3 linked regions of the Homo sapiens genome follow. The protein of the gene in region 2 purifies or fractionates together with the protein of the main gene of each other region. This does not show direct contact. Each region holds a gene or a part of one and is shown on either strand. Other genes may lie near its edges.

Region 1 (8,372 bases), on a different chromosome or scaffold from region 2:
ACTGAGGTTTAGAGAAATTAGCTTGCCTAAGCTCATGTAGCCAGGAAGTTGTGGAGTTGGGATTTTAACTTTAATGTGGCAAAGTCTTCAATAGAAGACTCTGATACTGGATGTCAGGTATTCAGAGATAATAGATGTCTGCTGTTCTTGAACTATTAGTTTGATGATACAGACACATATGTAAGCAAATGTTAAAGAATTATGATGCAGGTATTAGAAGAAAGAATGTGGGAGAATGGAAGAGAATGGAGGAAGGCAAGTGTTGCAAACATGAGTTTGAAAGATGAGTAGGAGTTTGTCAGACAGTGAAAAGAAAGGAAGCGTTTTCAGGTAGAGAAAAAAGGTTATATAAAGATCAAATTGTGAAAGGCCATCACATAGATAACTTTTTTTTTTTTTTTGAGACAGAGTCTCGGGTCACTGCAACCTCCACCTCCCAGGTTCAAGCAGTTTTGTTGCCTCAGCCTCTCGAGTAGCTGGGATTACAGGCATGCACCATCACACCCGGCTAATTTTTTGTATTTTTAATAGATACAGGGTTTTGCCATGTTGGCTAGGCTGGTCTCAAACTCTTGGCCTGAAGTGATCTGCCCAAAGATACGCTCAGCCTCCTAAAGTGCTGGGATTACAGGTGTGAGCCACCATGCCCTGCCTCAGAGAACTTCGAATTCAGTTTGCTACTAGGGCATGAATGATGGCAGCATAATTTGAAGAAGGGAGAAGGAAGTGGGGCAAGGGAAGGAAAGAGTGGCAGGAGATAAGACTGGGAAAAGTTGAGGTTAGATGGTGAAAGGTCTTGTAAGTCTTCCTTGGTTTGGTCTTTGTAGACTCAGGATTGCCACCACAAATAACTCTAGAAGCTAGGCATGAAAGAGTGTAGACAGAAGTAGGCATAGTACAAAAAAAAAAATAAGTGCCATAAATAGAATTGTTTCTTAATTTTTATTGAACTATGGGTATAGCACTTAACATACAAAGATCATAAGAGTAACTATATTTTAAATTTAAAGTAGACATTAAAAAAAGATAGTGCATTTAAAAGTAACTTGTTACTTTTAAATTGGAGACTGGAAATTTGATACCTTCTCTTTTGCCCCTAGTTATCACTCCTAATTCTGTTATTTCAGCCTCAACTCCTTTAGATGTTAGCAATAATTAGTTTTTTATTCTGTTTCATAATAAAACCGTTTACACATGAGATTGTAGAAAATTCTGATACCCTAAAGTCATCATATTTAGTTTAAGAATTATAATTCACTAACTACTTCCTTTGTGGCTCTTTATTCATGTACCAATATTGAGAAAGGTGAATTGAATAATTAATATTAATTCATTTTAATAAACTTAAAAAATAGAGAACAGCTGCTTTGCCTATGGAGTAGCCATTCTTTTATTCTTTTCTTTTTTTTTTTTGAAATGGAGTTTCGCTCTTTTTGCCCAGGCTGGAGTGCAATGGCGCAATCTCGACTCACTGCAATCTCTGCCCCCTGGGTTCAAGCAATTCTCCTGCCTCAGCCTCCCAAGTAGCTGGGATTAAAGGCATGTGCCACCATGCCTGGCTAATTTTGTATTTTTAGTAGAGACGGCGTTTCACCATGTTGGCCAGGCTGGTCTTGAACTCCTGATCTCAGGTGATCTCCCTCCTCAGCCTCCCGAAGTGCTGGGATTACAGACGTGAACCACCGCGCCTGACCTATTTTCTTAATAAACTTACTTTCACTTAAAAAAAAAAATAGAGAACCTTTTTTGGAATTAGTCTTAAATGCTACAGATTGAAAACAAATGTAATGCAGGCCATCATTTTCTTTCCTGTTCACTCAGTTCAGTTTAGGAAGTAGGCCAGATTATTCCTTGTCAGATGAATTTTCCAAACACACTTTTGCTAGGTATTAGGAATTTTTTTTTTTTTTTTGAGACAGAGCCTCGCTCTGTTGCCCTGGGTGGAGTGCAGTAGCACAATCTTGACTCACTGCAACCTCAGCCTCCCAGGTTCAAGCAATTCTCATGACTCACCCTCCTGAGTAGGTGGGATTACAGGCACATGCCACCACGCCTGGCTAATTTTTGTGTTTTTGGTAGAGACAGGGTTTTGCCATGTTGCCGAGGCTGGTTTCGAACTTCAGGGCTCAAGTGATCCACCCGCCTTGACCTCCCAAAGTGTTGGGATTACAGGCATGAGCCACCTTGCCTGGCCGGTATGAGCAATTTGTTTTTTTTTGTTGTTTTTTTTTTTTTTTGAGACAGAGTCTCGCCCTGTCACCCAGGCTGGAGTGCAATGGCACAATCTTGGCTCATTGCAACCTCTGCCTTCCGGTTCAAGCGATTCTCTTGCCTCAGCCTCCCGAGTAGCTGGGATTACAGGCGTGCGCCACCACGCCCAGTTAATTTTTTGTATCTTTGGTAGAGATGGGGTTTCACCATGTTGGCCAGGCTGGTCTCGAACTCCTGACCTCGTGATCTGCCCGCCTTGGCCTTCCAAAGTGCTGAGATTACAGGCGTGAGCCACTGTGCCCGGCCGGTATGAGCAATTTGAATCACACATTTGGATAACCGTTGGCAAACATCCTTATAGAGAAATAAGAAATAGATGACTTTAGATGGGTTGTGATGTCAGCTTGGTGGTCAAACTGAAGCATTTTCTGTTTAGATAACAATAAGTTAATTTCTTTTAGCAGTTCAAATATTTTCTTTCTCTGTATCAACTCACCTCCTTTTAGTAGAAGACTACTATATTGTGTATCAGTCAAAGAAACCACTGACTATGATTCAAAACAAAGGAGTCTGTATTATAGATTGACTGTTGTATTGATTTTTATGGCTATAATAATGTAATTTTAGCCCAAAGAGGTTAGGCTAGGCTTTGGAGTGTGTGGAAATGAGTGTATCCACTCTCAAGGAACTCTCAGTCTAGAGGCAGCTATCATTAGACCTGGGCCATTGTGATTGTTTAATAAATATTTGTTCATTTAATGGGTGAATGAAAGGATGGGTTCTATTTATGAGTTCATTTTACATCATTACATAGTATACATATGTGTATACATACTATTTATATGAAAGTTAGAAATAAAAAATTCATAACAGCATTTATGAAAATTTTCCTGCATGTGATACATTCTGATTTTAAAAATTTTAATCAATTTCTTTAAAATTCTGTCATGGTCCATTATATTGATATCATGAGCCACTAATGGATTGTATCCATGGTTTACAAAACATTCTAATGTTTAAGAAACAGAATAATTTCTAGGATCAGTATTGATGGATTCTTGGCAACAAAACCATTAATCTTTGGGGAACTTTGCAATAGATGAAATTTTAGGCTAGGAAAAAAGAAAATAAAATAAAAGCTCATTCTGACCATGGGAATAGCCAAGGAATTATAAAGTTAAGTTTTGAACCCTTCCTGGACTCTGACTTTTTTCTCCGTAATTTTCTTATCAGCCTTCAAACAGTGGCCGAGCTGCAGAACTCCTTGCCAAAGAACAGGGAACAGTGCCTGGATTTATTGGTTTTGGAACATCTCAGAGTGACCTAGGCTATGTTCCTGCTATTCAAGGAGCTGAAGAAATTGACAGTCTTGTAGATTCTGATTTCCGAATGGTGCTGCGGAAACTTTCAAAGAAAGATGTCACCACAAAATTAAAAGCAAGTTTTCTTGTTTTCATAAAAATTATCAAGAAAATCCCTTTGTTAAAATAAAATGTCATTAGCATGTTTTATGTAAAGAAAAATGAACAATTTATTGCTAAGTTCTTTTATAATTGTACTTTTTTCTGACACAGAGTCTTAAACTTAGTTGATATTTATTTTCTAGGTCGTAAATTAGTTTGTTACAGTGAACTTTTTTAAAGTGCTTTGGAATTTTGGCTGTATAGTTTTTCCCATTAGGGAATGTAACTTTGACCTTGTAACTTTAAATGAGGTTTTTTTGTTTGTAGATGTTTTATTTTTAAAAAAACAACTGAAGAGTTTCTACCGTAGTAGCCTGTGAAAGAGCTCTTCAAACTAGTCTCATATGGCATAAAGAGAAATAGTGTATTCTCCTATTACATAAAATAGACAAAGCTTCCAGAACAGAATAATCTATAGCCAGTTATTATGGTTGTTAATCCTAATGATGTTAATAACTTACTTTTAGGCTATGCAGGAATTTGGAACCATGTGTACAGAGAGAGACACAGAAACTGTGAAAGGAGTTCTTCCATATTGGCCAAGAATTTTTTGCAAAATTTCACTTGTAAGTATTAAAACTTTGCTAGTTTATTTCTGTTGTATATTTTTTGGTTGGAGTCATGGAGACTCTCAAATTTATAATGTTGATTTTTGGTGAGGGTTATTAAATGTTATGTCAGCATTGTTATGCAGATTGAATTGTTAACACTTGAGAAGAGCGTGGAAATAAAAAAAGAGATTGGGGCCTGGTATGGTGGCTCATGCCTGTAATCCCAGCACTTTGGGAGGCTGAGGTGGGCAGATCACTTGAGGTCAGGAGTTTGAGACCAGCCTGGCCAACATGGTGAAACCCTGTCTCTACTAAAAATACAAAAATTAGCCGGGTGTGGTGATGGATGCCTGTAATCCCAGCTACTTGGGAGGCTGAGGCAGGAAAATCGCTTGAACCCGGTGGGGCGGAGGTTGCAGTGAGCCAAGATTGCACCACTGCACTCCAGCCTGGACAATAGAACAAGACAATGTCTTTAAAAAAAAAAAAAAAAAAGATTGGATTGTGTTGGGTTATGAAGAACATTTAGGAAGTCTGTTTTCAGAAATTAGGTTGTTACTGGAGAATTACCCAGGTGCTTTCCAGTTTTAATAAATTTTGATAGTGATTTTATTCCCTGTATATTTGCTGCAGAAGAATGAGAGTGAGTTGCTTAATTATTGAAGACCCAACTTTTTTTTTTTTTTTTTTAATTGAGACGGAGTCTCATTCTGTCACCCAGGCTGGAGTGCAGTGGCGCGATCTCTGTTCACTGCAACCTTGTCTCCTGGGTTCAAGTGATTCTCCTGCCTTAGCCTCCTGAGTAACTGGGATTACAGGTGTGTGCCACCATGCCCCGCTAATTTTTTGTATTTTTAGTAGAGACGGGGTTTCACCATGTTGGCCAGGCTGGTCTTGAACTCCTGACCGCCAATAATCCGCCTGCCTCGGCCACCGAAAGTACTGAGATTATAGGCACGAGCCACCAGGCTCGGCCTCAAGGCCCAACTTTGAATCTGTCTTGAATACAATCCTATCTCATTGGGAGAAGGGGAGAAAGAAAAATTAATAAATTATTTTACATAGTTTCTGATTTAAAAACCTCCAAATTATTGATTTAAAAAAAATGATTTCAGTTTAGCTTAATACATAGGTGAATTCTTGGTAATGGGTCATTATAGCATATCCGGAAATGTCTGTGATTGTTTTTATGGGCTAGAGCTATTTTAAATCACATTTATATTTTTAATAGGATCATGACCGTCGCGTCCGAGAAGCCACACAACAAGCTTTTGAAAAACTTATCCTTAAAGTAAAGAAACAGTTGGCTCCCTACTTAAAAAGTTTAATGGGATATTGGCTAATGGCTCAGTGTGATACTTACACACCAGCTGCGTTTGCAGCAAAAGATGCATTTGAAGCGGCTTTTCCTCCAAGCAAGCAACCTGAAGCCATAGCATTTTGTAAGGATGAAATTACAAGTGTAAGTTCTGGAATCATTCTGAATCTATTTTTTTTTTTTAAGTATTTAAGGGTTATAAGCATAATGACAGCTCTTTTACTTGGGATTGTAGGGGAATGAGTAAGTAGAGTATTTCCAACTGAAGGTTGCCTTTTTAAAATTCTGTTTAGTTAAATAACCATTTTGGATCTTTAACAAGATTAACATTTTGGATTGGATCTTTCTACAGTATTTAAATTTTCCATTTTAATTTTGAAGTCTTTATTATATTTTTAAAAAGTAGATGTTTTATGTAATCTAAACAAGTAATATATCTAAAAATAAATCTAAAATTATTTTCTCTCGTGTTTCCATATCAATATATATATATATACAGATCTAACTTAGTGTCTTTTTCTTTTTATTGGCTCTCTGGTATTACTATACATGGATGTACTGTAGTTTATTTAACTTTTTAGATTAATATACATTTGGATTTTTTTCCAATTTTTATCATAACAAATGCTATTTCAGTAAACATTCTTGAGTAGATCTCTTCATACCCTTGTGGGAGTGATACTTACTAGAACTTCTAGTAAGCATATGTTGGGCCAAAGAATAAGAACATTAAAATTTTTTATAATGATAAATGGCCCTTCAAAAGGCCAAACAAATTTATACTCCCATTTTCAGATAAAGTTTCTCCACACTGGGCTAACACTTTTGCCATAACTTTCTCATAAAAAGTTACCAGCCATACCTGTTTGTGGCTTTCAGTGTGTCTGTTTCTAGTAGTGTCTCATTTCTTCCCCCTTCATTTTCTATTCCCAATATATGGACTAGAAAAACCAGACAACAAAGTTGTTAGAATTATATTGAGAAATAAAAGTAGATGAAGTAGAAGTGAGGAGGGAATTGATAATTTTTTAAAAAATCTATGCTTGCATTTATTCCCTTATTTAGTACTCCTGTGTTTCCACAACACCCTGTGTATAACCCTACTTAAACATTTCCATCTGACCCTCTCCCCCTGCTTTCCTTCCTCCTTTCAATTAGCCATCCTTCCTGTGGCTCTCCATTACACTTTTAAGTTCAAATTTCTTGTCTTGACATACAAGGCTCTGCATGATCTGGTCCCTGCTTCCCTATCTAATCTCTTCACCCAGCACTCCCCAACACATAACTTGATTGTAGTACCTCATTTAGGTTCTTCCATTCTTCATTTCTCAGGTGTACCAAGCGTGTTTTTCTAGAGAGAGGGTTTGTAGCTTTAATCATATGCTCAAATGGAGTTTTCTAACCCATCTGTAGCATAAGAATCATTGGTTGATTTAAAATGCCAAGTTATAAACGTTACAAGAGTGAAGTGTCATGAGTTTGGACGCTAAGAGCTTTAGGAAATGGATTTTGAGACAACTAGTTTGGCTCTTCATAGGCTTTAGAAAATAAATTTGTTCTTGGCTTTGTCATGGATGGATAACTAATCATTGAACATTGGGTTATTTCTTCCATTTTATTTTCCCTTTAGTTGGCTATGTTACAGTTCATTACAGCTGTTGGCATTGAACTGTCTCCAGTTCCAAACCCATGTATTAGAGAGGAGTTAGGCAAATGAAAATCAAAATGTCAGCATTATAGATAGTATATCATACTGTCTATAAGACATGGGCTCTGGGTCACACCATTGGTTCTAGTCCCACTCTGCCATCAGCTAGCAACTAGGTGTGTGACCTTGGGCAAGTTTCTGTGCCTTCATTTCATAATCTATAAAGCAGGAATTAACTTGTACTTCATGGAGTTCTGAGGATTGATTTAGTTAATGCCTAAAATGTGCTCAAAGCAATACCTGGCACATGCAAAAGCTCAATAAGTGTTAGTTATTGTTATTGCTGATAAAGCAGTTACTGGAACAGTGGACTCCCTTGCACTGCACCCCAGGAGGAAACAGACTTCCGTATATTTGAAAACCTCATACCTTCCTCTGTGATGGAGCAGAGCACAATGTATGGTGTTCTTTGTGGGCAAGCAGGCTTACAGAAAGAGGGGAGAGGAAAGCAGAGCCTAATTTATCTCCCAGATTCACATTCACTTCATTGCTGTGTGAAAGAGAAATGGAGGAACAAGTGGTCAGGAGTATTTATAGGTGCGTGGGGAAGAAGTATCTAAAGCAGCTAACCTTGGGAATTGATAGGAAAAGGAAAATTGGTAAAATTCAAACCTTTCAGTTTTGCTATTTGATTCTGCTCTTAGGTAAGATGATGTTTATGGGGATTTTTAAAAAGTGGATTTTATTTAACTAGGCTCTGTCTGTTCACCATTGACAGTTCAGTAAAACCAAAGGCTTTGGTATTTCCCCCCTTTGTAGGTGCTGCAGGATCATCTTATAAAAGAAACACCTGATACACTCAGTGACCCGCAGTAAGTTGTATTGTTTCATTGTAACTCATGTTAAGGATTTGTTTCACTCATAAGTAATCAGATGATTTCAATGTGACTTTTTGTTTTTGTTTTTTTTTTGAGACAGAGTCTCACTCTGTCACCCAGGCTGGATTGCAGTGGCGCAGTCTCAGCTCACTGCAACCTCCAGCTTCTGGGTTCAAATGATTCTCATGCCTAAGCCTCTCGAGTAGCTGGGATTATAGGCATGCACCACTACACCTGGCTAATTTTTTTGTATTTTTTATAGAGATGGGGTTTCACCATGTTGGTCAAGCTAGTCTCGAACTC
Region 2 (8,372 bases):
AGGCTGAGGCGGGAAGATCACGAGGTCAGGAGATCGAGGCCATCCTGGCTAACACAGTGAAACCACCGTCTGTACTAAAAATACAAAAAAAAAAAAAAAAAAAAAAAAAAAAAAAATTGCCGGGCGAGGTGGTGGGTGCCTGTAGTCCTAGCTACTCAGGAGGCTGAGGCAGGAGAATGGCGTGAACTCTGGAAGCAGAGCTTGCAGTGAGCCGAGATCGCGCCACTGCACTCTAGCCTGGGCAACAGCAAGACTCCGTCTCAAAAAAAAAGAAAAAAAGAAATACTGCTCTAAATTTCAAGATGCGATTTTTGAAATGGGAAATGAACAGCGAGGTCTTTGTGAGGAGCGCGGCTGGGTACATACCTAAGGTTTCCCGTTTTAGAAAATGGGTCAATACATTCATCCCTTGATAATATTCGGTGAGAAAAAAGCTTCTTCTCGGGGTCTAAAAAGCCTTGGAAAAGAAAACAGGACAAAGATTACATACCTGAGACACGTTTCGGTCACACGGCACATGGTGAAGCCTTGAATGTTTTTTTTAAAGTGGCAGACACACAACATGATGAACTGGCACCAAACACTTCATCCCTTTTGAGGTAAGACGTGGCTCGTGTGGGGCTTCTTTTCTCTTATGGTGAACTTATTTCTCAAACACAAACCATGTTGATAAGTGTTTATAATTCTACTAACATGAAAAATTTGTAATATCTTACTGAAGTGCCTATCTAAACCAGATGGATATGAAAATTATGGAAGGCACTTGCATAAGTAAAACAGGTAAGTCATCATTTGATCTCAAAACACTCTGCATGTGGTTCTTCACGTGATGGAGTCTGGACACTAAGCTGAAATTACTCTGCGTCACCTCGGATATGATCTTTCCTAACCCCAGGCGGGTGGCCCACTGCTCTCATCTGTAATGGTTAGTGGAGGAAAGGTTATCAAGGAAGTTTGCTTCTCCCAAGTTACTTTAGTAGAATTATACAAACTCACACTCTGTGTTGTAGAAATACACAGAAAGGCCGGTTATTTCTAACTATTATACACGTTTTAATAATGGTAATTTAGGCAACATCGAGGAAGCCTGCCTGACAGAGGAGACTGGGAAGGAAGGACATCCGGGACACCACCTTGACCAGCTAGTGCAGAAGGTGCTTCCACAGCGAAGAATCCGCTTAGGCTACATTTGACACTTGCACTTCACATGACATCCGTTAATTACAAGTCTAGTTTAACTTTTTAACAGTAATTTTCTAAAGAGCTTCACATGCTTGATGCTCAGCTTCGACTCCTTAAAGATAGTAAAACCAAGCTATCTGCAAACATCCCTTCTACACTTCAGGAAGCACCACTGTGAAAATCAACAAATCAGGCAGAGGTTTCTTGGGATCACCTCTGCTCTGGGTTTCTTGATCTATAAATTTATCTTCTGAACTTTAAGCCTACTGTGTTATCTTCCTAAGTTTGCAAAGTCTTCAATTTACAGTAAAGTGCTCATATTTTTAAATAAAGATAATTTAAAAATAAGTTATCTCTTGTTAGTTTACAAGAACCACAGAGTATATAGGAAACATATTTCAGTTTGTAGAAGTAGGGGTACTAAACAAAAACAAAACAACCTTTCAGGTAATTTATTCCATTGGTAAAATATGTTGGAGGCATCAAGTTCAATGTCAATTTAATTTCACCAGCCATTTAAAACATTCTGGAGAGAAAAAGCTACGGTTAATTATGAAGCCTCAAAAAGAAATGTTTCAGCTACTCATCATACAAGTGGCTGAAGCCATAAATCTGCACATACCTCAAGAGATAGGTATTCCATGGCACCCACATAACGTGTTTAAGGGTATTCGATCATTTAACATTTACTGAGTTTAACATTACTTGGAATTTTGCTAGGAATATAAGGTGCGGGAATGAATACAACATAATTATTACTCTCCCAAGAGGCTGAAATTGTAAGAAAATTGAACACATTAACACACAACCTCTATCTGGCCTGACACGTGCAGGTGCCGTGGAACAAAACGGGGACTGGATTGCACAAGAGTGAGCCGGTCCAGAGTCGGGAGCTGGGACTGTGGTCTTGTCATGGCACGCAGGTCCCCTGCATAACCGTTAGTTATGCATGAAGCAAAGGAGGTAGATGAGACATCTCAAAAGCACTGTGAACCCAAAGTCCAACCACGCAGCCCACATTCTCTCAAGACTTAAGTCTCACTGGAACGCCTGGCTCCACGCCTCTGCATGGCACACGGGGTCCACTTCCGGATCCGAATGCACCCCGGAACGCCTGGCTCCACGTCCCCACGTGGCACACGGGGTCCACTTCCGGATCTGAACGTGCCCTGACTGCACTCCACATAATCACTATTGTTTTCACGCTGGCTTTTAATCAACTACTCCCTGCACCCATCCCTACTGGGCTCAACCTCTGCACCACCACCTCTGAGATCACAAATGCGAGAAACACATTTGCTGTTTTTGATACAGGTTAAAACATACACATTACAATTAAAACAGAAGAGCTGCTCTGTGCACCACCTCAGTTACCCTGCAGCCCCACGGCACTATGCACAATGCACTGTGGGATCCGTAAGATCTTCTGGGAAGATGAACCTGCTTCCTGGCTGAAGCATCACCACCTCCAGACGTTTCAAATGCAGTACTGCCAGGAGCTTTCCGTTCCCTGATACCACTGGTTTGTTAGTATTTCATTAACCAAAAGATACTTGGGCTTAAAGGAGAAATAAATGCGATTGTTTCTCACTATGCGTAAATTCCAGATGATCACTGAGGCCATGAAGTCGCTAGATCTAAAGTCTGTTAATAGAATTATTAGCGTCTCTACTATCAGATAAAAGACACGCATCGCAAACTCTTAACATCTCTGTCCTAGTCATACTGAAAGCACGCATGCTATCAACACGGTCACTTTCAAAATGAAAAGCATCAAAAGCAGATGCTCGGCGACCACCTCAGGCTTCAGTCCGGACCTCACTTTCTCACTTGTAGAAAAGCTGACCCAGGTCATCTCTACAGATCCCGCCAGCCACAATGAAGCAAAGCTCGGCCTTCCTGAACCACAGCCTGGACACAGTCTTCCTCCTGCGTTGCTGGGCTCGAGGGCCCATGTTCTGTTGAGAATTTCTGCATCCATGTTCAAAGGGATACTGGTCTGCAGTTTTCTTGTGATGTCTTCGTCTGGTTTTGGCCGACATCCCTTGGACACGTTGGAATGCTGGAACTTTAGCATAGAAAGCAGAGCTTGAAACGGAGAAGGCACCAGACGGCCCGGTGACGCTCAACAAACCTAGCTGGTCTCACTGCAGGAGGACCCGCGCTCGAGGCTCTCCGCAGCCAAGCGCCCACCAGCAGGCTCCCTGCTCTGCTGTCTAAGCGGCTCAGAGGCCTGCGGATGTCTGCATGGATGCTCTGCTGAATCTGCGAGCAGCTCCCAGGCTCCCTCCAGCTTTCAGGCTGATAAAGAAACATGGCGTTCTCGTCACCTGCTTCATCTCTCACCACACGAGGCCTCATGAACGTGGAATCAGACTGTGGTGACCCATACCCTGCCTGCTGGTGTGACGGGTGGCAAGGGTGTAGCCCGGCTAAAACCTGGGACCCTCTGCTTTTAGCCCAAACCCCTCCAGCCAAGCATTTAAACAGATCCGAGCCTTCCACATGCTCCTCCTCACTGGGGCTTGTGTGCTCTGACCAGCAAACATCGATGCACCTCAGGAAAGGATAAGCAAGACGTGTGAAACAGCGAACCTAAAGAAGCCCAGCTTCAGAGAGAGACCTGGAGAAGGAAATCCGAAATGAGAAACACTTGCACGGGCACCAGATCAACGTATGGAAGACGGGACAGGAGGAGAAGAAACATCACTGGCATCCTGGACTCAGACGTGCAGGTCACCGGGCTGTGCCCGCTGGTGTGCGCCTTGTGTGGGAGGCGGGAGGCAAACCCGTCACCCTCCCAGGGAGCAGGCCATGCGGCGTGCAGTCCTCACAGTCCTGGGGGTCAGGAACCACTCCCTCACCGAACAATCCTGGTTTTAGGAACTCACCCAGAGGATCCAGTCCACAGAGGAGGGAAAAAAATCTTACATAAAATGATGAAGATTTATAACAACGTGATGGATAAATTCTTAGTGATGAAATCTTATGTGAAAAGAACGGTATGTAAACTTGTACATATATTAAGACAAACTAGGCAAAATTATACATACAAAAAAAAAACCAGAGAATAGGGGACAGCCATGGATATGATGAGCGTGAGGAATAATTTTCTGGTTTTTAGTCTTTCCCTGACATTTGTTATTGTGAGAGTGATGCCCCGCTCAGTTGTCTGGTTTGAGTGGGCGTCACTGTCCCTGCGGTTTGTGTGACTTATGGGTTGTCCTCTGGGAGGTGCCTGGCACTGGCTGCAACGGCACAATCTGGGGCTGGAACACATGGGGATTTGGGGGTCTATTTCCACACAGTGGGCAGCTTAGTCGGCCTGGGCTGCTCTAAAGAAACTCCATAGTGTGGGTGACTCAGGAACACACGTCCCTTCCTCACAGTTCTGGAGGCCGGCGTCCGACCACGGCGCCAGCAACTTGGCTGCAGGTCAGTGGGCGCCGGCTTGCTGCATTTCCCGCAGCTCCCAGGGCCCACCTGGGTAAGGGCCCTGATTCCATTCACGAGGATGGAGTCCACAGGACCTCACCACCTCCCACGCCCCTCCTAACACCCTCGCCCTGGGACTGGGTTTTAACACATGGACTTGGGGGCTGTAAAACCCTCAGATCATAGCAGGCATTATTTCTTCACTGGCCCGAGGAAGTGAGCAATATCACCCTTGTGCATAATTACTCGTCTTCACATCATCTGTCTCAGGCAGCTATGCAGCAGCAGCCATAATGTTACAGGTGAATATTTCAAATTTCAATTACAAGAGGAATTAAAGGTCATGATCACAATTTCCTATAAAGGCACTAAATATTAAAGGAGGATTCAAAATTCATTTCCCCAACAACAACAAAAGACTAAGACCAATCTAGAAAGACCTTTGAATTTTAAAATGCTCAGTCTAACAACCTCTGGAGCCAGTACGGAGGAGCTTGCCTACACTGCCACTCGGCGCCTACATCCATGTGGGACAGACGGTCGCCGTCCCGTGGCAGCCCCCTCGCTTTGTCCACGTGGGACAGACGGTCGCCGTCCCGCACTGTCCCCTTGCTTCGTCCACGTGGGACAGACGTTGCTTCGTCCACGTGGAACAGACGGTCGCTGTCCCACTTTGTCCCCTCGCTTTGTCCATGAAGGACAGACGGTCACCATCCTGTGGCGTCCCCTCACTGCATCCACATGGGACAGTCACCGTCCCGTGGCACTGTCCCCTCGATTCGTCCTGCTGGTGCTGCCTCCCAGAGGGCACCGTAGCCTGGCATTCACGCTATCACCCAGGGAGACAGAAGCAAACGCTAAACCCTAAGGGTACCCATGTGTAGGCAGGGGACAATCATGCTGTGTGCAGTGACAGCACCCAGCAAGAGCACACACAAGCAGCCCGGCCCAAAGTCCCTGTGAACTGATTTAAGAAGGTATCTGTCGGAGGACGCTCGCAGAAGTTTCCACGTGCCCATGTGGTCCTGACAAACTCCCAAAGCGGCCCACCCAGTACCGCACCCGGCCAGAGCAGCCGCGGCCCCACCCAACAGCCCTGGTGGCAGAATTCCCTTACCTCTCACAACCCCCTGCACAACGGCCAACCCTAAGACTACAACTGAGTTGCAGGAGAGCTTCTTTTCTTTCTTCATCTTTAAGAAACCATCACCGAAAACAGGAAAGAAACCCACTGTTCACACGGCCTCTTCGGCTGCGGCTTGACTGACCTGCGATGGTGTGTGCGTACAGCCGGCTGCCGAAGGTGAAGACGTGCAGCTCGTACAGCTTGGCGATCTTCTCCAGGAAGTCCTTGCAGTGTGGACGCAGGCGCGTGTGCAGCATGGGCTCACCCCGGCCCAGCTGGAAGTGAAAGATGCCCTAAAAAGAATAGTAGCAACAGTCGGGAGAAAAGGCCTGAGGAGCCCCGGCCGCCCCCGCAACCTGTGTGCCCGAGACAGGCATCCTGAGAACACACGTGTGCCCCAGACAAGCGTTCTGAAGACACGCGTGTGCCCGACAGGCGTCCTGAAGACACACGGGTGCCTGAGACAGGCGTCCTGAAGACACACATGTGCCCATCCCTCCACATGGGACAGAGGATACACGTTTGCATGTACACGCCCCTCCACACGGGACAGAGGACACATGTGAGCATGTACACGCCCCTCCACACGGGACAGAGGACACGTGTGCGTGTACACGCCCCTCCACACGGGACAGAGGACATGCGTGTGTACACGCCCCTCCACGTGGGCATGGGACAGAGGACATGCGTGTGGACACACCACTCCACGTGGGACAGAGGATGCGTTTGCACCCGCCCCTCCACATGGGACAGGGGATAGGAGTGTGCACACACCTCTCCACGTGGGACAGAGGACGCATGTCCGCCTGACCCTCCAAATAAGGACGTGACCCTAACTGGTGCAAGGGGCTACCCGTGGCATTTAAAACCCACTGTGTAAGTAGTTTCCATGCACGCGGTACGAGTGAGTGAGTGCGGCCTTCTCTGCTGCGGGAATGCCCTCAGTGAGTGTGAATACTGACTGCCCGTGGTAACTAGGATAACCACCTACCTGCAACAACTGTTCAAGATAACCACCCTGGGTACCACGTTAACAGTAACAGCCTACGGTAACTACATGATAACCACCGATGACAGCTACACTAACTACTCACAATAGCTACCTGCCTGCAACGACCCGCCTAGGATAACCACCCCCGATAACCAGCCAAGAGTAACAGCCTGTGATAACTACACGATAACCATCCCCAATAACCACGCCAACAGTCACCACCTATGATAACTACATAACCACCGATGATAGCTACACTAACTACTCCTGGTAACTACCTACCTGCAACGACCGCCTAGGACATAACCACCCCTGATAACCACGCCAACAGTAACAACCTACACTAACTATGAGCTAACCACTGATGTCACTTCTGCCTTTGTTTCCTCGCTGATACGTGTTACACAGCAAGGCCACCGCAGCTGCTCGGAACAGACCTCCACCAACATCACGTGCTGACAGTGTTTTCCTGAGCTACTGAATAAAGGAAATCAACATTCCCGGGTAACCTGGTATAACGCATGGGTGATTTTCAGACAGTTTCTTTCATCTACATATACAACATAAAAGCTGAAAGTATTCTAAGTCATATTTAGTAGACAGTGAAATGAGCAACACCGACTCGCTTACATATGATCGACATGCAAATGAGTCTGCTTTCCTTAGGAAGCTAAACTTCGATCCTTTAAATCCTGTTATTTTCTCAGTAAAATATTTACTCTTAATGGCTTTAAAAAAAGGTAGATGACTTAAGCTCAGTTACATTTTTCTAGTTCTAAGTTAGTTACGACCCTCATGAAGAAGCTACTCTGTTCAAGGTTTAGGAGTGAGAAGTTCTAGTAACAACTTTCCCAGTTACATTTTTCTAGCTCTAAGTTAGTCACGACCGTCATGAAGAAGCTACTCTGTCAAATATTTAGGAGTGAGAAGTTCTAGTAACAACTTTCCCATTACTCAACAGTAAAAAGTCCAGCAGCTGTCCAGGCTTCGGGAGCTGTGGCCAGCACCACTTCTGATCCCTGAAATTGCTTTCAGAGGGGCCAGCAGTAGGGCCAGGCACCAGCCTCAGGGTCTCCTCTGGATGTCAAGTGGGGCACACTACTGCTACTGAGGAGGCAGAGGACAGACCGTTCATGCTTAGACCCCCCTCCCCACTACATCAGGACACTGTCACCTTCCAGACCACACAACTGAGAAACAGCCACATTATAACTAGACTCCACTGTCTTCAGCAGGCCTATCCTGGAGATACTGAGAATCACATGAATTTTTTGGTTTCCCAGTGAATATAATCCATGCTGACACTCTACTGCAGCTTATTAAACATTCAATAGCATTATATCTAAAAGAACAATGTACCTAACTTAATTTAAAAATACTTTATTATTAAAAATCACCGGGCGTGGTGGCTCAATGCCTATAATCCCAACACTTTGGGAGGCCGAGGCGGGAGGATCACTTGAGGTCAGGAGTTCGAGACCAGCCTGGCCAATATGGCACAACCCCGTCTCTACTAAAAATATAAAAATTAACTGGGTGTGGTGGTACACGCCTGTAGTCCCAGCTACTCGGGAGGCTGAGGCACAAGAATGGCTTGAACCCGGGAGGTGGAGGTTGCAGGATAGAGAGATCGTGTCA
Region 3 (5,766 bases), on a different chromosome or scaffold from region 2:
TTGGTTGGGAGAGGTGGCCACTGCCTCTCATCCCAGCTACTCAGGAGGCTGAGGCAGGAGAATTGCTTGAACCAGGGAGGTGAAGGTTGCAGTGAGCTGAGATCACGCCACTGCACTCCAGCCTGGGTGACAGAGCAAGACTCTGTCTAAAACAAAATTTACACGTGTAACTGTCATTTACCTTCTGGTCCAAAGACTGGTTTGCTCCTGTGTCCATCAGGGCTTTTGTTTCACACTCTGTCATTACTCCATGAAAGCCATGCTTTGATTAGTTTCTAAATTCCTTAGCCTGCTATCTAACACCTGCCACAGTCAAATGAATCAAAGTGCACGCAGGTTGTGTTAATGAAATAATACATTTTTACATCTGTGTTACTTACCTATCAGCACTTAACAAATTACCCCAAAATGTAGCAGCTTAACAAAAAGAACAGTTATTATCTCACAGTTTCTGTGGTCAGGAATCTGGGTGTGGCTTAGGTGGATCCTCTCACTCAGGGTCTCTCACAAGGCTGCAATCACAGTGTCAGCCGAGCTGTAGTGATCTCAAGGCTTGACTAGGGAAGAATTTGCTTCCAAGATCCCTTATATGGTTCTTGGCCAGATGCACTTCCTCCTTGGCTATTAGACCCAGAGCCTCAGTTCCTCATCAGCCGTTGGCCAGAGTTTGCCCTCAGTTCCTTGCCCAGGTGAGTCTCTCCAGAGGGCAGCTCATAGCAGGGTAGTTTGCTTCATCAGAGTGAAAAAAGAGTTAAAGGGAGCAAGACTGAAGCCACAGGCTTTTGTAACCTAGTCTCAGAAGTGACACTCCATCACTTTTGCCATGTTCTTATCTATTAGAAGTAAGGCTGTGGGTCCAGATCATACTCAAGGGGGACGGATTCTACAAAGATGTGACTACCAGGAGGCAAGAGTGATTGATCTTTGAAAACCATTTTAGAAGCTGCCTTCCACAGCATTTACAAAGTCATATGTTAGTCAAAATAATGCTAGCTCCTGTAACAACAGAAAAATGCAGAAATTTCAGAGTCTTAACATTATAGAAGGGTCTTTCTCATTCCCATAAGGTCTAAGAGGGTGAGTGGGTAAGATGCTTGGCTCCAGAGAGTTATTAAAGTATCCAGGCTGAAGGAGTCATTGCCATCTTCAAGAAGTGATTTGGCTGGGTGCAAGGGCTCATGCCTGTAATCCCAGCATTTTGGGAGGCCACGGCAGATGGAGTCCTTGAGTTTAGGAGTTCAGGACCAGCCTGGGCAATGTGGAAAAACCCCATCTCTACAAAAAATACAAAAAATAGCTGGGCGTGGTGATGTGTGCCTTTAGTCTCAGCTACTTGGGAGGCTGAGGTAGAAGGATCACTTGGGCACCGGAGGCTGAGGCTGCAGTGAGCTGAGATCACACCACTGCACTCCATCTTGGGTGACACAGCGAGAGCCTATCTCAAAAACAAAAAGCAAGACAAAACACAACCAGAACCAAAAAGGTGACTTCCAGGGCTGCCCCAGCTAGGAACACTCCAGAAAGCAGACAAGGAAAACCGAGTGTGAAGAGTCCCTTTGGAGATTGTCATGGCCATGTGACATTCCTTTGGCCTGAACTCAGTCACATGTCCCCTTCGAGATGCAGGGGGGCCTGGGAAATGTAGTTTCTGGCTGGGCAGCTGCTTTCCAGCAATAGCACTCTACTGCAGAAGAGGAGCAGGAGTCTGTGGTGCAAAGCCAGCCAGGCCTGCCACAGATACTGCACCATTTACAAAAATGCTTTTACACTCATTTCATTTGCTTCTCATCACAATCTATACCATCAGCTATACTGTCCTCATTTTTCAAGTAGGTAAGCAGACTAGCATATCTTTAGAACATGCAGCGTTTATAATTACAGAGAACAGTTCAAGTCCCATCTCTGACACTTACCGCCTCTGTGACCATGGAAAAGTTATTTAACTTCTCTGTGCCTCAGTTGCCTTATCTGTAAAATAGGAACAATAGGACTACTCATAGTTTTTGTAAAGATTTCATATGCTGTGTATAAGTTACTTAGCACTGTGCCTGGCATACATAAGCACTTAATGATATTAGTTCTTGGGAAGATTACGAGGATGATAGTGCTCTGTATGGAAACAAAAGTTAAGGCTCAAAGAAGTTAAACGATTTACCCAAAACTACATAACAAGTACATGGCAGAGCCAGCATGGAGATTTTAGGTAGCAGCTTCCCACATTTTATGCTTTCACCTTCCAGAGAGGACTTTCACCAGCTTCCTCTGTAAAAACAGGAGTAGGTGAGCCTTAAGGTGAAGACACAGTGCCAAGCGGCCATCTTCACTGCTGCTTGGGTAGACCCAGGGTCCCAGGGGAATCAGTGCTGCATCATCTTTTCAATCCACCCATTTCTATTTAATCCAGCATTTGCCTCTTTATATGAAATGTGCTGACCCAGTGCCTCTTTTTATCTGCACTCTTTGTGGTAAGGCAAGTTCTCCAAGGCCTATATTTCAAGGTCTTTGTTTATAAATAGGCTCTGTCTTGCCAACTAGATAAAAGCACAGGAAATGATGTAGGATGAGATATTTCATTAGACACTTAAATTCTATTACATTTCTCCTACAGGAGTTGTTCACTCTAAAATGGCAGAAAAGCAGTTCTCATGTTAAATAGTCCCCAAGCACACCTTTGAATGAAGTGACTTGGCCAGAAGATACTCCAGATCCACCAGGAACAGTCAAGAGATTGCCATCAGAGGCTGCTTTGCCCGTTTTGAAGGGCTCAGCCCATTTCATTTTATAGAGTGAGGAGAAGGCAGAAATGGACATGCTGGATGCGCCAGAGTCTCCAAAGCAGTGGATTTGTGGACATAGCTGGGCAGATTCTCGGAACTTCCTTTCTCAAATCAGGTCACAGCCCAAACCCCTGATGACGTCTGAGAGGGCTTTAAGACAAGTGACTTCTGGTGTGGGCCAAAACCGCATTAAATCCACATGGCTGTGATTATCAGCAGACAACTCAGCTTCCATCAGTAAAATATGTTCATTTCCCTCTTGCAAGCCCTTGCTTTCATCTTCTTTTCTAGCTGGACCACAGCTTGAGATAAATTTCATCACATAATCTTTTCTGTCAGTGACCTTGATGAGAACCTATATTTAATTCATTTCCTAGTGAAAAGCTGTAGACAGGTGAGTCTTGTGTGTCCTTGTGCAAACTTCATAAGGCGCCACCTCTAGTTTCATTCAGTGATTGTTCCCTGTCCCCCTTCTAGGAACCAACGTCCAAGAGGCCCAGAAGATACTCAACAACAGCGGACTCCCCATTACTTCAGCCATTGACCTGGAGGATGCAGCCAAGAAGGCTGTGGCCAGTGTGGCCAAGAAGTGATGTCTTTGTCCTGATCCAATGGAGAAAGAAAGCCATTTTTCCGTAAAAAGGGATGGTTCATCATTGTGAAAGAAATGGTTATCTCATTGGGGAAGAAAAGGGGAGGGGGAAGGCAAGAATCACTGAAAAATCTTAAATCTGTGTTTTCTGGAATAAGATATCTAGACAGCCTAAATCTGATTTTGGTCTTTATAAAAATAATATCTTGTGTTCTCATACTTTTCTGTCACTGTAAGCCTGCCCAGTAGGCAGTGTTTTGCAGACTTTGGGGAGTGGTCTATGTGGCCAAATATTGTGTGTATAGACAGAATTTGAAATCAAGTCCTGCTTCATTTACAAGAATTTTGGTGGGCATCTAATCCTACATAATGAAAAAGAAAAACAGACCATTTAAAAACTCAGACAAGATTATATTTAATATATTAATTACTAAAAAGGCATAAGATTACACTGAACATATTAGCTACTAAAAAGGCACTGCTAAGACATTCAAGCAAATAGCTATTACACACTACTGCAGATTTTACAGGTTTCTAATTCTAACATATGTTTGAAAAATCCGTGAGTATTCCAAAATATATTTAATAATGGAATATCTGCATTAATATACCATCCATGTGTTTTTACCATTTGCCTTAATATTGAATATACTGTTTACCTCACACTAAAAAGAAAACCAGAAGCCTTATTTGTGATTTTGGGAGTGGAAGCTTCCATTTTTGTGTCAAAAATGAATCCTGATTCTTATGGAAATCTCTGTTATTAAGATATTTCAAGATGAGACAACACTGAAGATCAAATTGTGTTTAGTATCACTATCTTCTCTCCTCGTTTCTCTCTTACTCCTCATCCTCCCAGAATCTACCAGTTTATGGTAGAAAGATGGGAACCTTATTTGAATGTGTTTTTTTTTTCCATGATGTCCAATTTTGTTGTGGGAAAGGATTTGGATAAAATTTTTGTTTAAATTTTGGTAGATTTTTATCTATACAAATTTAAATAAAATTATGTTTTGTAAGCTGTAAGATCTGTGTGTATCTCTCATTTTACTCAATTTTATTCCTCAAACATTTTTTTTTTTTACAAAGACACTAGTCTTAGTGTCTTAGGTATGCCTCTAAAATTTGATAATTTGGGTCATTCCAGGATTATTCCAGTTCCACTCAACTTTATCAGATACCCATTTCTGTGTTAGGAGATTATTGAATCCATAAAAGTTATACACAAACCAGAACCCCAGGAATGTATCTCAGATGTCTGACAGGTTGAACTGTGATGTCAGTCTGCGTAACGCAAAGGGAGATACTCCAGTATAACTCATTCCATTAAGTGAGGCTCAATTGCCACCATTAATTTTCCTTTCAGTGTATAAATATGTAGTAGACCAAACTATTTTGTTTGTTTTTTTTACCAGCTTACTTTGTTCTCATAAATTTTATGTGTGGACAAAAGTATGAAAGTCATTATTGTTTAGAGCCATGTTTGCCATGGAGAAATAAACTATTGGATAGATCAGTCTTACATCCTTTCTTAATGCCCATGCAATGAATGAAGAATATTAACAATGTCTTCTTAGTTGTGTTTTGGTTTTTGATAGCTTAATCACTAGTTGGTGCAGTAAAAAAAATAACCTATATTATGTCAACTAGACAACATTTTTAAATTTTTGATCTCTGAAGAGGACTATGTTTGAATCACTTGTAAATATTGATGTTTCCAGTCAACCCAATTTGGAGGAGGGGATAAAGCAATTAAATCATTTTTGTGATTATTTCATAAAAGGGTTAATAACAAGGAAATAGCCTTTTATTTTCAAATAAGCTCAAAGCCATCAGAGCTTGTTCTTTTTGCATCCTTAGCGTAGCTTGTCTCTAATTGTTTTATTCTCAGGCAGGCCATTTTTACAGGTGGATAATGGCTGCTGGCCATTACATGTGAGGTTCTCAAATTTAGCATCCTCAGAAGAGAAAGAGAGAGGGAGCAGAGGGAAAGAGAAAATAAATGAGCAAATAAACGAAAGAAAGAGGGAGGAAGGAGAGAGGAAGGAAAGAAGCTTCTCTTGGTAATTCTAAGACACCTCCCAAAATTGAATATGACTCCAGTGATCAGTTTCAGGTCAGTAACCTATTCCTGAATCTGGCCCCGGTTCATTTACAATAATTTTTGTGGTCTTCTATACAATAAATATAGGCCATAAAAAACTCAGACAAGTTTACATTTAACATATTAACTACCTGATATGGTTTGGCTGTGTCCCCACCCAAAATCTCATCTTGAGTTGTAATCAGTGTTTTTGATTGTTTTGGCTTTGAGCTTATTTGAAAATAAAAGGCTATTTGCTTGTTATTAATCCTTTTATGAAATAATCACATAAATGATTTAATTGCTTTATCCCC

Evidence for each region. The genes of interacting proteins can lie anywhere in the genome.
Region 1: the proteins of CTDP1 (region 2) and LTN1 purify together in Homo sapiens (affinity purification with mass spectrometry; 2 studies listed by BioGRID and IntAct, with this or other methods). This does not show direct contact.
Region 3: the proteins of CTDP1 (region 2) and SUCLG2 purify together in Homo sapiens (affinity purification with mass spectrometry; 2 studies listed by BioGRID and IntAct, with this or other methods). This does not show direct contact.

The regions. Positions count from the first base shown.
Region 1 is NC_000021.9:28,982,007-28,990,378, reverse strand, and holds part of LTN1 (E3 ubiquitin-protein ligase listerin), read left to right. Parts: intron 1-3,444; coding exon 3,445-3,648; intron 3,649-4,141; coding exon 4,142-4,240; intron 4,241-5,456; coding exon 5,457-5,687; intron 5,688-8,010; coding exon 8,011-8,063; intron 8,064-8,372.
Region 2 is NC_000018.10:79,702,431-79,710,802, reverse strand, and holds part of CTDP1 (RNA polymerase II subunit A C-terminal domain phosphatase), read right to left. Parts: intron 6,037-8,372; coding exon 5,886-6,036; intron 458-5,885; coding exon 367-457; intron 1-366. UniProt on the Homo sapiens protein: Processively dephosphorylates 'Ser-2' and 'Ser-5' of the heptad repeats YSPTSPS in the C-terminal domain of the largest RNA polymerase II subunit. This promotes the activity of RNA polymerase II.
Region 3 is NC_000003.12:67,373,348-67,379,113, reverse strand, and holds the end of SUCLG2 (succinate--CoA ligase [GDP-forming] subunit beta, mitochondrial isoform 2 precursor), read left to right. Parts: intron 1-2,608; coding exon of another isoform or gene 2,609-2,652; exon of another isoform or gene 2,653-3,254; coding exon 3,255-3,370; 3' UTR 3,371-4,395; downstream 4,396-5,766. UniProt on the Homo sapiens protein: GTP-specific succinyl-CoA synthetase functions in the citric acid cycle (TCA), coupling the hydrolysis of succinyl-CoA to the synthesis of GTP and thus represents the only step of substrate-level phosphorylation in the TCA.